Regions from separate parts of the Homo sapiens genome. Here regions 2 and 3 are each linked to region 1. The links come from fine-mapping of genetic effects on gene expression. A gene starts in region 1. Each other region holds a variant in brackets. All regions are shown on one strand. Distances are from middle to middle.

Evidence for each region. PIP is the estimated chance that this variant, and not a neighbour inherited with it, causes the effect. A credible set is the group of variants that fine-mapping cannot tell apart.
Region 2: its variant is the best candidate, but not a certain one, in a credible set for the expression of GALNT8 in esophagus muscle (GTEx, PIP 0.83).
Region 3: its variant is the best candidate, but not a certain one, in a credible set for the expression of GALNT8 in whole blood (INTERVAL, PIP 0.87).

Annotation. Positions count from the first base shown.
Region 1 is chr12:4,717,978-4,724,470 of GRCh38, reverse strand. GALNT8 (polypeptide N-acetylgalactosaminyltransferase 8) reads right to left here and starts at 4,071. Exons shown (of 11, transcript NM_017417.2): 1 at 3,583-4,071. The coding sequence starts at 3,793. It overlaps GAU1 (GALNT8 antisense upstream 1), which reads left to right and starts at 4,369. Exons shown (of 4, transcript NR_110112.1): 1 at 4,369-4,606. RefSeq lists enhancers at 1,963-2,958, 2,959-3,954, 3,955-4,950.
Region 2 is chr12:4,739,655-4,746,821 of GRCh38, reverse strand. It overlaps GALNT8 (polypeptide N-acetylgalactosaminyltransferase 8), which reads right to left. Exons shown (of 11, transcript NM_017417.2): 4 at 2,122-2,305; 5 at 1,196-1,393; 6 at 564-678. Among named protein-coding and RNA genes, the nearest start is that of GALNT8, 23 kb to the right of the region's middle. The variant G/A (reference allele first, on the strand shown) is at 3,326.
Region 3 is chr12:4,803,893-4,811,059 of GRCh38, reverse strand. It overlaps KCNA6 (potassium voltage-gated channel subfamily A member 6), which reads right to left and starts at 1,726. Exons shown (of 1, transcript NM_002235.5): 1 at 1-1,726. The coding sequence starts at 1,018. KCNA6-AS1 (KCNA6 antisense RNA 1) reads left to right here. Exons shown (of 3, transcript NR_199077.1): 3 at 4,192-6,575. The variant A/G (reference allele first, on the strand shown) is at 2,896.

The sequences.
Region 1 (6,493 bases):
TGGGAGCTGGTTTGGACCTGGCCATCCTAAAGTCAATTTGAGGAAATGCACAATCCGGTAGTATGAATACAGTGTCACTAGGTTATCCCCATAACTTATACTGAAACTTTCCAAGCCCCAAAACAGACACATCCATTGACATTCCCCTAGTGGGGCTTTTATGAACCCTGAGGGAGGTTCCAGAAAACTGGCTTAGAGTCATTGATCCCTCCCTCAATAGGGATATAATTATTATTGTTTGCATTTGCTCTTGGTAGCTTACATGATTCAACTAAGTATCCTTATTGACTTCTGATTTTTTTTTTTTTTTTTTTTTTTTTTTGAGACGGAGTCTCGCTCTGTCACCCGGGCTGGAGTGCAGTGGCACGATCTCAGCTCACTGCAACCTCCACCTCCCAGATTCACGCCATTCTCCTGCCTCAGCTTCCCGAGTAGCTGGGACTACAGGCGCCCGCCACCACGCCCAGCTAATTTTTTGTATTTTTCTAGAGACGGGGTTTCACCGTGTTAGCCAGGATGGTCTCGATCTCCTGACCTCGTGATCCACCCGCCTCGGCCTTCCAAAGTGCTAGGATTACAGGCGTGAGCCACCGCGCCCGGCCGACTTCTGATTTTTTTAAATCTTCCTGGAATCCTGGAGGCAATGAGCAAACAGGATGAAGGGTAATTAAACAGGCTTTTAGTTATAGGAAGCTCTGTGGAAAAAAAAAAAAAAAAAAAGCATTGGTGATCTAGAAACAGGGCCCAGAAGACTTTTTGAGGTTCAACTCAGGTGGTAGTGAGTCTCTGACATCACAACATTTCAGAGCGAATAAAATGTGGGAGCACCAAGAATAACAAGAAAGATCTTTGCAAAAAAGGAAAGAGGAGTAAACCAGATGGCTCTGGCTGGCTCCTCATGGCACATTGTGTCCTAGCTGATGGAAAGAATAGCAGGGCTTTGGGTAGAACTCCTGCCATTTTACGGCTTGAGGAGGCTGAGCCAGTGTGATGAGCCTTGGGGATGGGTGAGACAGTCCTGGTGTGGTCTGGGTGCTCTGCCAAATAGTGAGGGTGGTGCTGGGGTCACCACCCTAGGTACACAGGCATCCTCCTGGTGAAGCTGCACCAAGCATATTTGCATGGGCAATGTCCGACCCACCCAGGTAAGCCAGGGCTTGTGGAGCTGATGATCTTCCCTCTGTTTCATCCACTCTCTTGCCCCGTATCACTCTTCCCTTCATCCCTGTCTGCCTGTCTTTTTCTCTCTCTTTCCTAGACACACCCACTCATTTATTCATCTATGGAATTTCGATGTATGAATAGAAATGAGTAGTGAATGAGACGTTCATGGAAACAGCACTTATGAAACTTGCTTTCCATAAAACTGTACCATAATAAAATATGATGAGTCTTATGAAGGAGGACGTGGAAGGTGCTATGGGTGCCTTAGGACTCCTCCTCTCTCCTTTTATTCTCTCCTTCTCTCCCATCACACTTTCCCTTCTTTTCTTCTTGTCTCCATACAAACTCTTTCACTCTCTCTCCCTGGACTCCCTCACTTCTCTGCTCCTTTCCTGTCCCAGCTCTTTTCTCCTCTCTCATCTCCCTTCTCACTCTCCTCGCTCTTTCCCTGATTTCTTCTCTCCCTTCCTTTTTCTCTTCCTGCCTTTCCTTCCACCCATCTCCCAGCCTCACCCTGAACCCTGACAATGCTCAGTTCTCATTTTAAAAGACACTTTCCCCAACTCCAGCCCCATGTGCACACACCTGGGCAGTCACATCCCTGCCCACACATAAAACACCTCCCTATGGGGTTCCAGCATTTGATCCCTGTTACCTGGGAGCAGGGGGAAATTGCTGCTTCCCTTGCTGAAGTTGGATGCACAGGCACATAAAATTCAGAGGCATTAGACTTCCATGGTGAGCCGGAATCACAAACAAACCCCAGAATGTGTTGAAATCTTACCCTTAAGTTTAAATGAGGAGGTTAAAATTTGGCACAGAGCAGTTTATAGATCACCTTCTGCATCTACTTCACAACCCTATTAGGTCAGGTTGATAACTATCACTATTGTTATCATCATCTCCATTTACAGACCAGGAACCTGAGGCTGAGAGAGAGAAGCACTTGCTCAAAGTCACACAACCACAATGGCACATCAGGATTCGATCTTAGGTCCTCTAACAAAGCCCTCATTAGTTCATGAAAGGAGCACACCGCAAAATGGAAGCGAGGCCCTTGCCCCAGAGATTGCCACCTCTCTTCAACAGCCCCTACCACACATAGGCGTGGGGAAAGGAAAGAGAGATCAGATTGTTACTGTGTCTGTGTAGAAAGAACTAGACATAGGAGACTCCATTTTGTTCTGTACTAAGAAAAATTCTTCTGCCTTGAGATGCTGTTAATCTGTAACCGTACCCCCAACCCCGTGCTCCCTGAAACATGTGCTGTGTCGACTCAGGGTTAAATGGATTAAGGGCTATGCAAGATGTGCTTTGTTAAACAGATGCTTGAAGGCAGCATGCTCGTTAAGAGTCATCACCACTCCCTAATCTCAAGTACCCAGGGACACAAAACACTGCGGAAGGCCACAGGGACCTCTGCCTAGGAAAGCCAGGTATTGTCCAAGGTTTCTCCCCATGTGACCATCTGAAATATGGCCTCGTGGGAAGGGAAAGACCTGACTGTCCCCCAGCCCGACACCCGTAAAGGGTCTGTGCTGAGGAGGATTAGTAAAAGAGGAAGGAACGCCTTTCTGCAGTTGAGACAAGAGGAAGGCATCTGTCTCCTGCCCGTCCCTGGGCAATGGAATGTCTCGGTGTAAAACCCGATTGTATATTCCATCTACTGAGATAGGAGAAAACCGCCTTAGGGCTGGAGGTGGGACATGCGGGCAGCAATACTGCTGTTTAAGGCATTGAGATGTTTATGTGTATGCATATCTAAAGCACAGCACTTAATTCTTTACCTTGTCTATGATGCAGAGACCTTTGTTCACGTGTTTATCTGCTGACCTTCTCTCCACTATTATCCTATGACCCTGACACATCCCCCTCTCCGAGAAACACCCAAGAATGATCAATAAATACTAAGGGAACTCAGAGGCTGGCGGGATCCTCCGTATGCTGAACGCTGGTCCCCTGGGCCCCCTTATTTCTCTCTACATACTTTGTTTCTGTGTCTTTTTCTCTTCCAAAGTCTCTCGTTCCACCTAACGAGAAACACCCACAGGTGTGGAGGTGCAACCCACCCCTTCAATAGGCCTAAGGACAGGTCTATGGCCCTTGGGATTCTTATTCTTCTCGTTGCCTGCACATATGTAGATATAATGATAATGCATGTGCACAAGCCCACACACGCATACACACACACATGCTCACCTCCCCCATACTGCTTGCTCTAATTTCCACTTCTACTCACTTCATTCTCAATACCCATCTCCCATTTGAAGGCACAGAATTCAGTGTCAGATGCTTCAATGAGCGACTGAGATGAAAATGTGACCTCTCACCCATTTTTCCTTCCATATCCCTTTTTCCTAAGTGCCCCAAACACACACACCCACACACACACCTTCCAGGTTAGCATTGTAAACTTACTCAGATCCTGCAATTCCACCTCCAAGTGGGAGAGTCTCTTTATCACTGCCCCGTAGCGTTTATTCAGATGTAAAGGAAGCTCCCTGTGGAGACCACCCGTAAACAGGTTTTGTAAAGTCCCCTTGCTAGAAAATACCAGAAGGAGATTGACAGCAATGGCCAGAGTCAGCCCAATGAAGAGGGCTTTGGGGAGTTTCCTCCAAAACATCATCTTCTTCCTGGGGGTCGTCCACTCCCTGTGGGACTGAGTGTGTCACTGCTGGAGCAGGTTAAGAATCAGAACCAGCCTAGCTTTTGTGGGAAAGAGAGTTCTAGGTGCCAGTTGAGTTGGTCTCCCCTGTGTGAGACACCCATGGGAAGCCACGGGTGGCCTCTGAGGAGCAAAGTCTCCTTATTGCCTTCTTTGTCTTTATGCCCCGAGAGGATAACCGCTCAGCGGCTTTCCACAGGTTGCTCAGCGGCTTTCCACAGGTTGCTCAGGGAGATAACACTCCCTTGAAGCAGAGGAGTATAATCAAACATCTTGGCTCCTCCTGAAACCCACTCCCACCCATTTCAGTCATTAAAGATCTTAAGTAGTTTAGACACACGCCTTTGCTCAAGGAAATTCACAGAAACCGCCACTGTTACACATCTTATCGAATGACTCACTGATTAATCCTTTTCCTCATCCCTTCCTCCCCTTCCCATCTGCCCTAAGAACAAAGAGCTTGTAAACCAATAAATTGGGTGGAGCCCAGAGCTCTGGGCCGTGAGCAAGCCTCCAACGCTCTGGTCCCCTGGACCTGCCTTTTAAACGCTTGTTCTGTCTCTTTCTAACTCCTTTGTCTCCGCCGGACTCGGGGTATCCGCTGGGTGGTGTGGGGCTGGTTTCCCCAACAGCTTTCTCTCCACCCAGCTTCATAGATGACACCCTGCCTGCTAGGCCAGATGTTCTCCGGCCAAGAACACTATTATAGCTGCCTGGCTTCTCCCTGAGCAGCGTCAGGTGTGAGGAGTGCGCATGGCAGCTGCCCAGTGACAGGTAAGTCACCTGGACACACCTTGTACTGTCTCAGAAGTCAGAAGAATGCTTGCTCCTGCAGCTAGCTCAGGCTGCCTGGGTGAGAGGCTTTTCTCTATATATGTTTGTTTGATGTTTAATGTTCTCTCTCCCTGGAAAAACCACCTGGGAGACTCTGATAGGGCATGTGAGGTCTGGTCCTGTGGGTATAAGAAGGGGATAAATAGGATGAAGAAGAAATCACGAAGCAAGAAGTCTCTGTACACTTAGATCCTTGCTTTTTTGGAGAGCTGGGATCTAAGATGTCTTTTTACCTAACTCTACAGGGTTTTGGACATAGTAGGTGTGCAACAAATGCTTGTCCCACAAACTTAAGGACAGACTTTCTTGCTAGTTCCTAGGACTTCACTGCCTAGAAGCAGGTGGAGAAGAGCTGGAGGCGGTGCCCGGGGTTGAGCCTCAGGGGATGACTCCGATTCACTGGTCTCTGTCCTTTGCTTGTCCTCTGCACAACTTCATACACTGGGCTTCTGCCCTGCCCCAGCTTCCAGTAACTCCTTTGCCTCCACACCTCACACTTATAATATGTTTTGGACAAATCACCAGTGATCATCATTGTAGAATAAACACATAAAATTGTTCCCCAAGGCTAAAAGTTCAAAGTTCTCAGTCTACTGTCAATCCCGTCAAAATCACAGCTTCCACCCCGGCCTGGCTCTTTGGACTATTTACTACGTCCCAAACACAGCACATGGTGACATGTGCTGAGGCGGACATGTGGATTAAAGGAAAGTAATGTGGCTTTAGGAAAAACAGGATGAAAATGAACAAAATGAAAAGGAATCACTTCTTCTGTTTCGCAGGGATAGAAAATGTCTCCCAGCCTCCCACTTGCAAATTAGACTCAAAACATAAGAAACGCATGATCCAGCCAGGCGCAGTGGCTCACGCCTGTAATCCCAGCACTTTGGGAGGCCGAGGCAGGTGGATCACCTGAGGTCAGGAGTTCAAGACCAGCCTGGCCAACATGGTGAAACGCCATCTCTACTAAAAATAACAAAATTAGCTGGGCATGGTGGCAGGCACCTGTAATCCGAGCGACTTGGGAGGCAGAGGCAGGAAAATCGCTTGAACCCAGGAGGCGGAGGTTGCAGTGAGTCGAGATCGCGCCACTGCACTCCAGCCTGGGCAACAAGAACAAAACTCCATCTCAAACAACAACAACAACAACTACAAAAAACAAACAAACAAAAAAGCATAACCCTTCTGCTTCTGGGACAAGAAGAAATACCTACATTTATCTTCTCTATTCCTTCCCATCAAGGCAAGTAAAAAGTACACATGATATGTAAAACAAACCTAAGAAGACTCTGAAAGGTAGAGAGAACAGGGCAGGCTGACTAGAGATCTCCAGATATCCTAGCTATTGTAGGAAATAGATTCCAAGTTGCTGGATGCTGGAGCAGTCAACAACTTGGAAATGCAATGGGCAGAGACAATAGAAGCCCCAAGAAAAAGCTGCTTTCTCTAACCAAAGAAACAGGAAATGGGAAGCCTAGCAAGACAGAAGATGTTTAGACAACAACTGCCCTACTCCAGCCAAATGCCACTGAAAACCTTGCAGTGCCATGCCCACCACATCCACAGAGGCCTCGTGGGGAGCCTAGACTTCCAACCTCACCCCAGCTGTGAGGGTTTGCCCCTGCATCCCCCACCTTCCCCTCCAGGGTGTGTCAGTGAAGGTCTCTTGGGGAGCTGGCATTTTTGTCATTGTCCCCACATGATATCAGTAAAGGAACAGTGGCCCTCCCCTTTTCAGCCAGTGTGGTGTCAGCAGAGGGCTAGTGGGGAACCTGAACTCCCTCCCTCACCCATCAGTAATGAGGCAGCCCTCCCCACCAGGTGTCA
Region 2 (7,167 bases), 22 kb before region 1:
CTCCCAAAGTGCTGGGATTACAGGTGTGAGCCACCGTAACTGGCCGGGTTTGAGGATTTCAGTTATATAATGATAAAAACCTGGCTATTTGTCTTAGATTAGACTATATCTCAGCACAAACTCAGGCTATCACGTCAGCTGCTCTGGCTGTGAGTACAGAAGCAGGCTGGCTGCCCACACGTCTGCATTCCCTAGTCACGCTGCCCACTCCTGTTTTTGCTGTCTTTGGCCTTCTAGAGAATTGTCTGCTCCAAGGTTAAGTTTATCCCAGGAGATGCTTGAAAAATGCCCAGAGTCCTCAAGTGAAATAGGGACATCTATCTATTCAATCCCAACTTGACCCCTTCCCACCCCACCTCCCAGATTATATGGGCTATACCAGGAGTGTCCACTCCAGAAGTCCTATTGCCCCCCGTCCTTGGCCCAGTTGCCTAGAAACATAAGAATGTATCCACCTTTGAGCCAATGACATTCAGCCTTGTTCTAGGATTCCAGGGGTCCTACTACCTTTCTATTATTCCCCTTTCTGCTTTGTCCCATAAAGAAAAGGGAAATGTACCCACCCTCAGGCTAAGCTCCACGTTCTCTCCTCCATAGATGAGCATTCCACCATCCAGAGACCCGATCTCTCCCAGGAAGTGCCTGTTAGCAGCCAGGATGCCCATGATTGAAGGACTCCTACAGAGCACACAGCAAGAGTCACTAATCTCTCCATAAGGAGCGGAGGCGAGGGGTGGGATGCTCAATGATTATTTGGGCTTCAGAACTCTACCTAAGTCTGTTCTTATCATGAAGGCCTTCCCTAAACTCTCAGGCAAGACTAAGTGCATGTAGCTTTCCCTCGCCCACTGCGTTATCATAACCCTTCTCAAAATATATTGAAATTACACCTTTTTCTTCTAGGTATCCTTACTTCATAGTCTGCTAAAGCTTGAAATGGCCCAAATGTTTTCCAAAATTTTAAGTGTTTTGCTTGATTTTTGTCTGAAAGTCCCTAAATATCCCAAAGTGTCTGTGATTTCTTAACTGGGATAACTTATTGGGGTTTTTTCCCTCTATCCCTTGTCCTTCACCTCATCCCCTCCCCTCCTTCCACGTCACCCCAATTACTACCACCAAAGATAAACAAAATCCATTCAGTTCATTCCTGCCTTCCCACATGCTACTCAAGTTCCCTGAATCTCCTCAGACTTACTTCACTGGGGCAGTGACATCATGCAGATCAATCCAGGCTTGTGGCAGTGCATCGTAGCGGCACCAGAGTTCCCAGTTAAACCCATCAACTGCCAGTTCATACTTATCCAGTTTGAAGGTGTCAAAACGAATGTTGTCAAACACAGGAGACACAATCACAGTGCGGTCCTCCTGAATCCGAGCCAAGATTGGCTCTGCCCTAGAACAAGAGTGTGCAGAAAGCCCAGCTTGGATATGAGGACAAGCAGTAGGGGAGAGCAGATAAAGCTGTTCCAAGCACCTTGCCCTGACATTGAGTACCTCCTCCATTTAGGCTGTACTGGGTTGTGAGTAGAACTCTCTAGAGTCCAGAGAATCTCTGTAACCTTTCGGGATAGCTGAAGCTGCTAGAAGCCAACCCGCATCGAGAACAGGTTTGAAATTAGTACCCAGGTAACACCCCCAGGCCGTTGTGAAGCAGCATTCTCAGTATGTATATTACTCCTTGAATTTACGTTATCTCTTGGTTCTCCGTTTCCAAAGTGATGCTTCTTTCCTGTCTGATTCTCCACATTCTCTAAAGAACATAGTTCTCTTTATTTTATTATGTAATTTCATGGCTGGGGAAAAACCTTTAAAATAACCAAAGGCTAATCTCCTCATCTTTACAGTTAAAGACACAATGTCTAGTTAAGTGAAGTGACTTACTCAAATTCACAAAGTATTTGGCAAAGTCAGCATTATGATCCAACTGTCAATACTCTCCACCATGCTACTTCTCTTAGCCAAGCAAAATCCCTGCATAAAAGCATGCTGTTTTGGAGATTCCCTTTATTTAAGGCCTGGTGCTGACTTTCCCTGTGTCCACAGTATCCTGTCTTGTGTTCAGTACATGCACAATATCTCCTCTCTGCCCTTTCCAGAAGAACTAGCCTCTTTGAGCCTTACCACCCAACATTGACTTCAATGTGAGCATCCAAGATGGCGACCACGTCTGCTGTGGCAGCTTCCCAGCCAGTGTTGCGGGCTTGAGCAAGACCTTTCCTTTCAGGATGCCGTATTATTTTCAGTAGTCCTGGATACTTCTGGTTGTAAAGCTTAATCTTCTCATCCAAGTGTACCTTTAGTTCTCCTGTCAATCAAGTGCACACCTATAGAAATTCTGAGTGCAACAATCAACGTGATACAAAAGTTTTATACTATCATATATTAGTGGCTGGACTACCTCCAGCATAAAATGGGCAATTCTAAGAGTCAACTAGAAAATAAGTAGTATTTCCCCTGCACCTGCCTCTCTTCTCCCTTGCACCTGAGGTGTACTGTGATCATTCCTAATGTCCTTTCCCTGACAGTTAAACTATCTTAAAATGATAATACTGCTTACTACGTGTCAGGCACTGTTATAAGTGCTTTTTCACGTTGAGAAGTTCTTGAGAGAATGAGTGGACAGATCTAGCCTAAGGTGCACAGGTTGATGGAAAACACTGCAGGAAGGCCTGGAACATCTTCATAGCTAAACTCTCAAAACTCTGGAGAATCCATAAATGACTAAAATTGTTTTGTTTTAGATATTCCCAGTTGACCTACTTAAGGACCAACTGGGACAGAATGCACAGATTAATCTCTTTGCCAGCTTCTAGCTAGTAAATTTAGCCCAAAAATTATGCAAACAAGATTCACTATTCCTAGATTGTTTACAGGTAGTTTTCTTCCCTCTCTTCCCTCTCTTTTAATAAAGCTTGTCTATGGCTTTGTTCTTGGGCTCAGCCTACCACTGACTTCCTCACGTGTAAGTAAACCACTTGCAGGCAAATCACTTAGCAGTATGCAAAATATCTAACCAAATGACTCTGAGTTACTCATTGATAAAATTAATTCAGTTAATTCTGAAAGTATCTCATGTGGTAGGCACTACAATATCCCCACTTTACAGATAAAGAAACTGAGGCACAAAGAGTTTTAAAAACTTTTCCAAGTCACATATCTAGTAAGTGGCACGCCCTGGATGTGAACCTATGCTGTGTTTAGCCACCAGAACACCGTGTCTCAAGAACTCTGTGAGTACCTGGTTGGGTTTACCAAGTCCTCCCTCCCTCTCCTCTCTCCCCATAGCCAAGGAACGAGATTCTTGCCAGTTCCTCTCTCAAAAGAC[G/A]AGCATATTTGTGAGACCTAGAGTGATCAAGACCTGGAATCAACACCTAAGTGACTATGGCAGTAAAATTTACCCCATTTTAGATCTGCTGCACTCAAGAGTAATTGTCTCAATTATTGAAGGTGCTAAGCAGGGCCAGTACGTCTAAGGCTGTTTGCTTCCTCTGGGAGTAAGCTGGGGTAGCCAAGGTTGCCAGTCTGTACACTTACCCAGGCACTACTTTTAGTCAGTAATCCACAGGAGGCGCCACTGAACCTGAATATCTAGATTCTAATTCAGTCACTACATCATCCTGTGTCACTTCCCATTGGATGTGTCTGATTCCTCAACCTAGAGAAAAGTACCATAGTGGGCATGGTGGCTCATGCCTGTAATCCCAGCACTTTGGGAGCCTGAGGCAGATCAGTGCTTAAGCCCAGGCGATTGAGGCCAGCCTCGGCAACAGAGTGAGACTGTCTCTTTTTTAGAAAAACAAATATTAAAAATTTCAAGAAAAGTACCAAATAGTCAGGACCCTTCCAACTCCAAATTTTTATGAGCCATAGATTCTGAGTCACCTCCTGAAAAATAATGCCTATCATATAGCACAAAGATTAAGGACGCCTCGACGGGTTTTCTGAAGACAACCTATGCTCCCTTCCCAGCTTTGCCCTCCTACCGGTCTCCTCCCCAAAGCCTGCTATCCCAGGCTGGTCAGCTCAGGGCGCTTCCGGATTCCTCACTTTTGTTCACACCATTCCTTCGGCGCTCCCTAGCTCTCCACCCCGACCCAGTTTCCCAGTCTTCCCTCATTTTCTCTGCTGTCTCAAATCCTATGACGCCTTCAAGTCCCAATCCGAGCCTGCCTCCTCCAGGAACCCTCCTTAGATCACCACACCCCACACCCCCACACCGTGCTTTCTTTTGCTCACTGACGGTTCACTCGGTTTGTCACGTTATTCTTCACACATTAAGGTATCTTTCCACAGATGTGTCTTGCCTCATTAATTAAGAAGGAAACTTGAACTCTCTGACATCCTCCTCCCTGCCCAGTGGCTAGCACATGGTAGAAACTCAACATGTAGTTGTTGATTGTGAAATTTTCCTAAAATTAGGGAGAAAATACAGCATTCCACCTACCTTGATATAATTTTTAAAAAGCTTACATCTCACATAACATTTGAGTGACATTTAACATTTAAGCTCAAAATATTTGAGTGATGTGAATAAAGCTTAACATCTAGGGAAAGACAGAAAGGAGGCAAACCTCTGGCACCAGGTTGTGGCATTTCAAAAGTACTACAAATAACACTGAGATAGGTGAGGAGCAGAACACTAGCTAGCATGTAATGGGAACAGGCTCTCTCCTGAGGCCTTTACACGTATTATTTAATCCCAAAAGTGGTCCTATCAGGTAGGCACCATTATTCCCTGATGTTACAGATGCAGAAACTGAGGTGAGAAGTGGTTGAGTCACTTGCCCCCAAATTCACATGGATAGTGAGTTTCTCTTTCAGTAGACATGGTAGAGACTTCCATTTATTCTCCTGTTTAACATAAAACAGATATTTGAGTTATGCTCAGTGTAGGCTCAATTTGGCTGGTGTTTTCGTGGTTAATGACAGAGACTCTCTAATTCCTGTCCCTGTAACACCAAAGAATGGCTGACAGTCCCCTTTTCTGTGACCATCCAAACAAATCATCTCTGTGAAAAACAAACGTGGGTTTCAGACCTAAATGAGAGGAATGTGTTACAATGGAGTGCAGCTTAGAGCAATAAGAAAGCTTTGGTTTTTCTTTATGTGTCTACCCCGTGTTTGTAATCTTGTATTTTTTTATTGCATTGTTCCACAGGAAAAAATCCTGAATTAAGTCTTATCTACACCCCATGGAACATAGCGTATAGGCCATAGAGTATAGTATTGACTTTTTTTTTTTCCACAGAAAAAGATATCTTTCACAATATTCCAGCTCAACTCTTGTCTTTGCCTCATGAAGACCCTGAGTCCCAAAGAGGTGAGGGGACTTGCCTGACGTTGTCTCAGGCAGGGAGCAGAGCCAGAGTGTTTTCAGAAGTCCAAGGCAGAGGTCTTTCTAATCATGCTCCTATTTTTGGGGCAGAAAACCAGGTGTGCAATTCAGTACCAGTCTCCATGCCCAGAAATGAATGAAACTAGTCTCTTTTCTTTGGTTTTCAGCGGAATTTTGCTCTAAAAATTGTACCTTCTTATTTTTTGTTTAGTTACATTGGAAATAAAAAAAGAGGAAGGTATGCAAAGGATGAATATAAGTATTTTTAGTGTGGAAGTCTAAAAAAGAAGGTTTAAGCAGTCATTTTGTTTGCTCTCTCAGGAAGGTACAATAACCTATCTGGTACTTAAAGATCCTCAGAGAAGGAACATATTCTGCCTCCAATGAGCTGCCACTTCATAGCCCTTATAGTCAAGAAATTCTTCCTTACTGCTAGACCAAACCTCTAAGTTTTTGTAACTTAATTCTACTCTCTTTTATTTGTTGCACAAAATTAATAAAACTAAGAGCCAACAATTGCTGAGAGGCTACCATGTGCAAAATGCGTTACATAATTCATGTATTATAACGGGAACACAGTGGTTAGAACCAGGGCTCTGGACTCTGAAGTTCATGGTCAAATCTCAGTTCTGTCACTTACCAGCTGTAGGATGTTGAACAAGTTCCTTGATCAGTCTATGCCTTAGTTTTGCACATCTACACAATGGGTCAAAAAGTGATTCCTTCCTCATAGGGTTGTTGTAATGATTAAAATAGTTAACATGGCTGGGCACTGTGGCTCACACCTGTAATCCCAGCACTTTGAGAGGCCGAGGCAGGCAAACCATCTGAGATCAGGAGTTCAAGGCCAGCTTGGCCAACATGGTGAAACCCCATCTCTACTAAAAATACAAAAATCAGCTGGGTGTGGTGGCATACTCCTATAATCCCAGGTACTCAGGAGGCTGAGGCAGAAGAATTGCTTGAACCCGGGAGGTGGAGGCTGCAGTGCGCTGAGATCCCACCACTGCACTCCAGCCTGGATGATAAGACTGAAACTCCATCTCAAAAAAAAAAAAAAAAGTTAACACACGTAAGGTGCTTAGAACAAGCAATGTTAGCTGCCATTATGATCTCATTTAATTCTCACTATAGTTCATAAAATGGTTATTATTATCAACATCCATATTTTGTGTACAAGAAAATCAGAATATGAAGACGTTGAGTTACCCAAGGACCTAACACTTACAAAGGAGAAGCCGGGATTATGAACTCAGAAAGTGAGGACTCAGGTCTGTTATCTTCCACATCTCTTCCTTGGGTGGGCTAGACTCGGGGCACGGGCACCCTGTGGGCAAGAGCTGTTGCCACTATGAAGAGTCAGCACCCAAATCTCTCTTTTCTCCAGGCTTAATGACCCAGGGAGAGTGATCTGTTCCTCATAAGGAGCAACTCTAAGTCCCTTCCTGGTATCTGGAGTCCTTCTCTAGACTCTGCTTCAGCCCCCAGGCTTCTTCATGGTGCATAAGAGGGGCACAGGTGGCCGGGCACAGTGGCTCACGCCTGTAATCTCAGCACTTTCAGAGGCCGAGGCGGGCGGATCACGAGGTCAGGAGATCGAGACCATCATGGCTAACATGGTGAAATCTCGTCTCTACTAAAAAAATACAAAAAAATAAGCTGGGTGAGGTGGTAGGTGCCTGTAGTCCCAGCTACTCGGGAGGCTGAGGCAGGAGAATGGCGCGGACCCAGTAGGCAGAGCTTGCAGTGAGCCGAGATCCCACCACTGCACTCTAGCCTGAGTGACAGACCAAGACTCCATCTCAAAAAAAAAAAGAAAAAGAAAAAGAAAA
Region 3 (7,167 bases), 86 kb before region 1:
TGGCCAGGGACATGGCCTGCTGCCCATTCTGGCCGCCTCCTCCACTGGCTGGTTGCTGCTCCTGCTGCTGCACCAGCTCAGTGCCCAGGGTGATGAAGTAGGGGAAGATAGCCACCAAGTCAATGATGTTCATGATGTTCCGGAAGAAGGCCGGCTTGCTAGGGCAGGCGGAGAAGCGCACCAGGAGCTCAAAAGTGAACCAGACAATGCACAGCGTCTCCACCAGAAAGAAGGGGTCTGTAAAGAAGGAGCCCCCAAGAGTACTGAGTGAGGAGGAGCCCCCGGTCCCCATTTCCCCAGGGGTGATGCCATGATGAAATGTGTAGGAATCGTCTTCATCCTCCTCTTCCTCCTGACTCCCCCTGGAAACTGGGGAGACTCGACTCACACCACCATTGTTTCCACCTCGACCATCTACACGGAACTGGGGTAAGGTCTCCAGGCAAAAGATGACTATGGAGATGAGAATGACCAACACGGAGACGATGGCGATGCCCCTGGCCGGCCCAGAGCTCTCTGGGTACTCAAAGAGCAGCCACACCTGGCGCTGGAAGGGCTGGGAGGGCAGCGGCTTCTCGTCCTCGCCACCTTCGGGCAGGCAGCCCTCGTCCTCCCGGAAGGCCGCCAGGGCCTCGTCCCCCAGCTGGTAGAAGCGGATCTCCTCCAGGAAAATGTCCAGGGGCACGTTGACCGGCCTCCGCAGGCGGCCCCCAGACTGGTAGTAGTAGAGGATGGCGTCGAAGCTGGGCCGGTTGCGGTCGAAGAAGTACTCGTTCCTCAGGGGGTCGAAGAAGCGGACTCGCCGGCCAGGGTCTCCGAGCAGCGTGTCCGGAAACAGCGACAGGGTGCGCAATTGTGTCTCAAAGCGCAGCCCGGAGATATTGATCACCAGCCGCTCGCTACTACAGCAGCCCCCGCCCCCGCCGGCCTCCGGGAAGTCTCCCGCATCCTGTTGCTCTCCCTCCGGCCCACGGACCTCCCCCGGCGCCGCCAGCGTAAGGGATTTCTCCGATCTCATGCCCCCTCGGAGGTGCGCTCCCCGCCACTAGGACGGCGCCCACGACACAATCTCTGGAGCGCGGCACCCGCTCCCCAGCTCCCGGCTGCGCCCTCTTTAGGGTGGGGCCCGCGCTCCTCCCGGTTCGCGGTCTGACCTGGCCGTTGGGTCCGTGAGCCCTAAAGCCCTGGTCCCTGCAAGGCTGGGTCTGGGGAGGTGACCTGGGCGCTGGGGATTTGGTTCTGCGCTTCCCGTTACCCGCGCCCGGGTGCTAGAGCTTACTGGGATGCCCGGAACCGCACACAGGCGCGTGTGAAATTGGCTGCCCGAAAAGACGCGTGGCTTCGCCCCCAGCGGTGCCTGAGACCCGGCTCCCGGACGCAGAGGTCCGCCCTCCAGCCGGGCTAGCTCTTCCCAGTTCCCACTGCGCTCCTCCAGCCGCTCCGGACCCCCGGCTGCCGCTGGTACCGAAGCGCCAGATGCGCCTCCCTCCGGCTCGGCAAAGACTCCTGGCGGGGCTCGGCCTCCGCCCTGCGTCCACCGCGGGGCTGGGTCCGGCCAAGGTCGCGGTTCCGGCCGCCACAGCCGCCACCTCCTCCCTAGGAGCCGCGCCGCAGGCCTCGCAGAGGGCCCGGGGCTGCCCCGGCGCCCGAGCGCGGGGACCCACCTCCCCACGGCTCAAGGCTTCGCTGCCGCCGCCGCAGCTGCAGCGGCTCGGCTCTCCGCTCTGCCCTTCCTTCCCAACACACACTCTCCAAGTGACGTGGCAGGCCCCGCCTGCTGCCCCCTCCCACCCCACTCCCACATCACACCCCTCGCCCAGCCAGGGGCTGCCGCGAGCCAGGGCGCCATGGAAATAGACGCACACTTGCCTCACCAGTAAGCTTTCCCGCGCTCTCCTGGCACGCCTCTCGCTTTCACACGTTCACATTCGCGCCCCCCTCCACAAGCGCCGGCACCCTAATACCACACCCCCTCCACCCCCGCAGTCGGCTCTTCTCATTTCAATTTACCGAGTTGACCTGCGCAGTGTATTTCATCAATAAGAAGACACACCCCGCCCCACCACACAATACGGAGCACTGTGCATCCACTCATACAGAAATCTAAAGAAAACATTAAATCATACATTCTTCTGTCTTCAGGAAGACCCGTTTGCCAACCTCTCCAATATCTACAGGAAAAAAAAAATAGAGAAAGTATTTTTGAGATGCCTTGAGAGCTTCCGATTTAAATTCCAATATAATTCTCCGTCTACCTTTGCAAGCCTGGGAGGGCGGGGCTGCAACTCTCCCAGAATTGCAAAGGGATGGTAGAGAAAGGGTGGCAAGTCAATCAATGCCTTTCCCATCAGAAGATTTCCAGGGGAGTCCTGAGAGCCTGAGGCAACAACCCCAGTGAGGAAGGACCCAGAAGATGGAAGCACCTCAGAGATACCTCAGCCCAGGGCACAGTGCACCCTGGGGATCCTTTGCTCCCAACCACCCCGAAGGATGCATCTGGAATTTCTGCTTATTGGGTGACCAAAAAAAGGGAGAAGAGGGTGAGTGGAAAAGGGGTATGTAAGAGTGTTGATTGAAAAAATAATAGCTACATTTACTGGGCATTGAATATGTGCCAGCCACATTCTAGGTGCTTTCCCAGAAAGATGTCCTCTCCTTGTAGGCCATGTTACAACAAAGACCCCTTTGGCAGTACTGGAGTAGGGCAAAGTTTGTTGTTAGGGACCAGCTGACTCTTCCCTAACTCTCCAGCAAGAAGGTGATAAGAATGGTTTTCCATCCATTTCTGTCTTTCTTCACGAGACCAGACAAGTTGGGGTCTGGTAGAGGAAGACTCAACTGATCTTTTCAGACTGACACTTCCAGGTAGGGTTGACATTTGCTTCTCTGTGCCTC[A/G]GTTTCCTCTTTTCTGGCTGGCTGTAGCCAAAATGAATTGGCTAACAACTACAAAGTGTTTTTGTGTAGCTTCTGGTGCATATTAGATCATTAGTATGCATTCATTGAGGTTAATGATGAGAATGACACATAAAGGTGCTCTCAAACCACAGGATGCATCTGAGAGTTCTTTGTATTGCACGGAGTATTTTAAAACCACAGTGGTTCTCAGCAGCATTCACTCTCAGAGAGTTGGAGGAAGGAGAGAACCAAGGCTCCTGGATGTGTCGGGAAGGGATCAGGTGTTGAGTGGGTAAGAAATGTGCTAGTATTAGAACTCACTGCATGCTCATTCTCCAGTCTTGCTCCTCACCAGTTGAGCCAGGCAACAGCCTCTGCTCCCTTTCTGTGCTTGCACAGCTGATTTCTGGCACCAACGCCCTGTGGGCTTTTTTGATCCCCCAGGATAGAAATCAAAAGAGATCACAGCATACAGTAGCAAAGAGAAAGATTTTATGAAAGCTTATGGACATAAGGGACCAAACACCAAGAAAGGAAGTGGGTTGCTCTCCAAAGTCAAGGTGTGGGTTCCCTTTGTGGAGGTCTGCAGTAAGGGGAAGTCAGGGCATGTAGAGGTGAGGTTTTTCGGGCACATGTACGGTGGCTTAAGATGCTGCTTCATACAACATATGTCTCATTAGCATCTTAAATCTCCACCTGTGGGCATGATTTTTAGTACTAAAATAAGGAAAAGTTCATGATGAGGTGAAAGTTAAGCCTAGCTAGGCACGTAGGGCCTCAGAAAGGTCCTTAGTTCTCTAAAGCAAGGGGTTAATTAATTTGTGGTTAATAGCTTCTTGGGCCTTTGATGCTGACTGGCTGGGAGTTACAGCTTGAGTAAAGGGCTTTTGTTCTTTTTTCTCCAAACCACATCACAACAGGAAAGCAGCCAGCTTGCCCATCTCATGCTTGCCTGTCTCATTTCCACTCCTTTCTCTCACCTTGCATGTTTCCGTGAAGGGAGAGAAAGCAAGTACATGGAGTCATCCAGCGGAGTTTTCTCACTTACAGACTATGTAATTAAGCCATTTAGACTCCACACAAAAGTTGCTCTGTTTAAAAAATCTTTTTGAAAGAAAAGAAAAAAAAGGAAACCAACAGCAAATACACTATAGAAGATACTCTTTACCCCCATCCAGTTATCTGTCACTTTACCCTTATCCAGTTATCTGTCATTATTTTCTGAGTCATAAATTGACTAACCCCTGATTCTTTTTGTTTTTGTTTTCAAATTCATAATGAATGATTCATTTGCAGGTTTGTTTTCATCATTGCCATTTTTATTCACGAGACTGTCAACTAGGTCAGTAATTCTTCAAAACCAATCCTGGCAAAGCATGGGAAGGAACCTTCGTTCTGCAGAAGCGTACACACCCTGATAAGGTGTCAAGAACCTCCGTTTGAGTACCCCTCGGGTTAAGCCTGACTGGGCTGCCGGCCACCCTTCAGGCAGAGCTGATGTTCTGTGATGACCTTCACATCAAGCATGAGGTCGTGCCCCAAGAAGGGTTTCACTGTGCCCAGGGAGGTTCCCCTGAGAAGGACAAGCCATTGGCAAATTCATGAATCAGAGTTCTGTTTTTAGTTCTTTTGTGAAATAGACTCATTTCTTAGCTTAAGAAAAACCCTATGCCTAGATCATTCCCCCCAAGCGTATGTTAAGGATGAGTACAATCACACCTTCAGAAATGCCAGTTCCCAGGTGAAGGAAGACACAGCTCCATCCATAAACACTGCCAAGTGGCTTCCAATGGCAGGGGATTTTTCCCCAGCATTCACCAAGCACCAATTTCATGCCAGCACAGATTTTGTTGTTATTTTTTGTTGTTGTATCCAGATTCAGATGTTTGCCATGGTCATAGCAATCATTCATTTATTTAAAAAGTATATATTGAGCAGCTACTGAGTGCCAGCATGGTGCCAGGTGCTGAGGATTTAGCAGTGATCTATACAAAATATCTGCTTTGATAAGCATACATTTTCATGTAATAAATTACATTATAGACAGAAAATTTTAACAGTAGACAATAAGGAAAATAATTCCATATTGCAGTAAATGCCTTGAGGAGGATAAATGGGATGCCATGTCAGAAATGAACTTGGGGACTCAACTTTGCAAGGGTAGCTGGAAAAGTTCCCTCTGAAGAGGTAGTATTTCAACTGACAATCCAAAGAGGAGAATGGAGCCTGGCACGGTGGCTCATGCCTGTAATCCCAGCACTTTGGGAGGCTGAGGCAGGTGGATCACCTGAGGTTAGGAGTTCAAGACCAGTCTGACCAACATGGCAAAACTCTGTCTCTACTAAAAATGCAAAAATTATCTGGGCATGGTGGAGGGCACGTGTAGTCCCAGCTACTTGGGAGGTTGAGGCAGGAGGATCGCTTTAACCTGGGAGGTGGAGGTTGCAGTGAGCCGAGATTGTACCACTGCACTCCAGCCTGGGTGACAGAGGGAGATTCTGTCTCAAAAATAGATAAGAGAATGGGGCCACAGTGCCAAATGCAGGGAAGAGCATTCCAGACTGACAAGTGCAAAAGCCCTGAGCTAGAAAGGTCATGGGTGTTCAAGGTCAAAAAGAAGGCCGTGCGCTGGGAGGAGAATGGGCAAGGGAAAGGGAGGTGCAAGATAAGATTGAAGAATTAGCAAGGGTACCATCTTATAGGGTGAGGTGTTCAGGTTTTATCTTAAGGGCGGTATGAAGCCAATGATGGTTTTCAAGCAGAGGAGAGACGTGATGTGATTTACTTAGAGGCTGGGAGGGGAATGAATTATGAAGAGGTAGAAGAAGAAATAGAAAGACCAGGAAATTGCAGTCGTCTGGGGAAAAGATGATGGTGACTTGGGCCAGAGAAAGGTAGAGTCAGTAGAGATAGAGTGGAGAGGAGGTGAGGAGAACTGAGGAGGTATGTTTAGATGATAGAATCAGCAGGAATTAGTCATCAATAAAACATGAGAAATAAGCAGCCAATGCCAAGCTCAAGCAACTAGGCAGGTAGGTGTCGCCCTTTACTGAGAAAGGGAAGACAAGGGGTTAAACAAGTTGGGATGCGTCAAGACCTCACCTTTAGATGTTTTACATTGGAGAGGGAAATTATACATGCAAATTAAGACATCAAGGAGGCAGTTATTTATTTAGGTCTGGAATATGAAAAAGAAACTTACGATTTATGAATTTAAGACATCTAGAAATATATACATTCATGGCACCAAGGTCTTCTGCAGAAACAGAATATGGACAACGAGGAGAAATGACCAGGACCAAGTCCTTCACAGCAGTCTTCAATCTACCGGTCAAGGTCAGGAGGAAGGGCAGCCAGCATAGGAGGCTGAGGGGTTGTAGGTGAAGTCAAAGGAAAGCCAAGAGATGGAGAGCTCCTGGAAACCAACAACCAGGACTAGACCCCAGGGGCCCCATCCTCCTGGGCCCACGCTGGCCTTCCAGTGGAACACATGATCTGCAACAGGTCAGGAGTACGTGGGGGGCATCCATGGGAAGAACCACCTAAGAATGGACGTATGTGCCCACAAGATGAGCACAGATAATGTGAAGCATTGTGTGATAACCATTTATATTCTGACCTCTGCCCTAGGTTCTAAAATGTACCTATTCCAGGTATATAAATGACATAAATGATCTGTCTTCCAGGCTTCTTTACATTTTTATTTTGCTGTGTGTGTGTGTGTGTGTGTGTGCACTTGTCATCATTCTGGTAATACGATCCCTGAAGTTTTCCTCTTTCTCTGTGTAACCTCTGAAAATGGTTCTCCTCATGGTCCTGTCACCCACAGGCCCCTGCTCTGAGGACAGGGTGGCGAGTCGTCAGCTCCCTTACCTCTTACTGAGAGAACACAACACTTGTGCACAAGCACGGAACACCCTCCCTAGAATGACCCACCCCACTCTTGAGCTTTCCACTGTGGAATCCAAACCACTCAGAGCCAGTGAGAAGCAGGGGTGATGAGTCTGAGCCCGTGTCCCTCCTCTCACCATCTCACTCTGGGCAAGGCTCTGCCCTCGAGCTTTGGTTCTTCAGCGTGTTCCAAGTGGAAGCTCCTCTGTCCAAACACAGCGTTCTGCCTGGCCCAACTCCCTTCTCTGGTCCCCTCATTCACCCCTTTCCCCAGGGTCTGGGTCATGTTTACTCCTTCTCTTAACCTTCTCCTACTTTTTCTGCTGGAGAGAGAAGACAGCATTGAATCCTGGGGAAGAAGGGGAGAAAAATGGATGACCG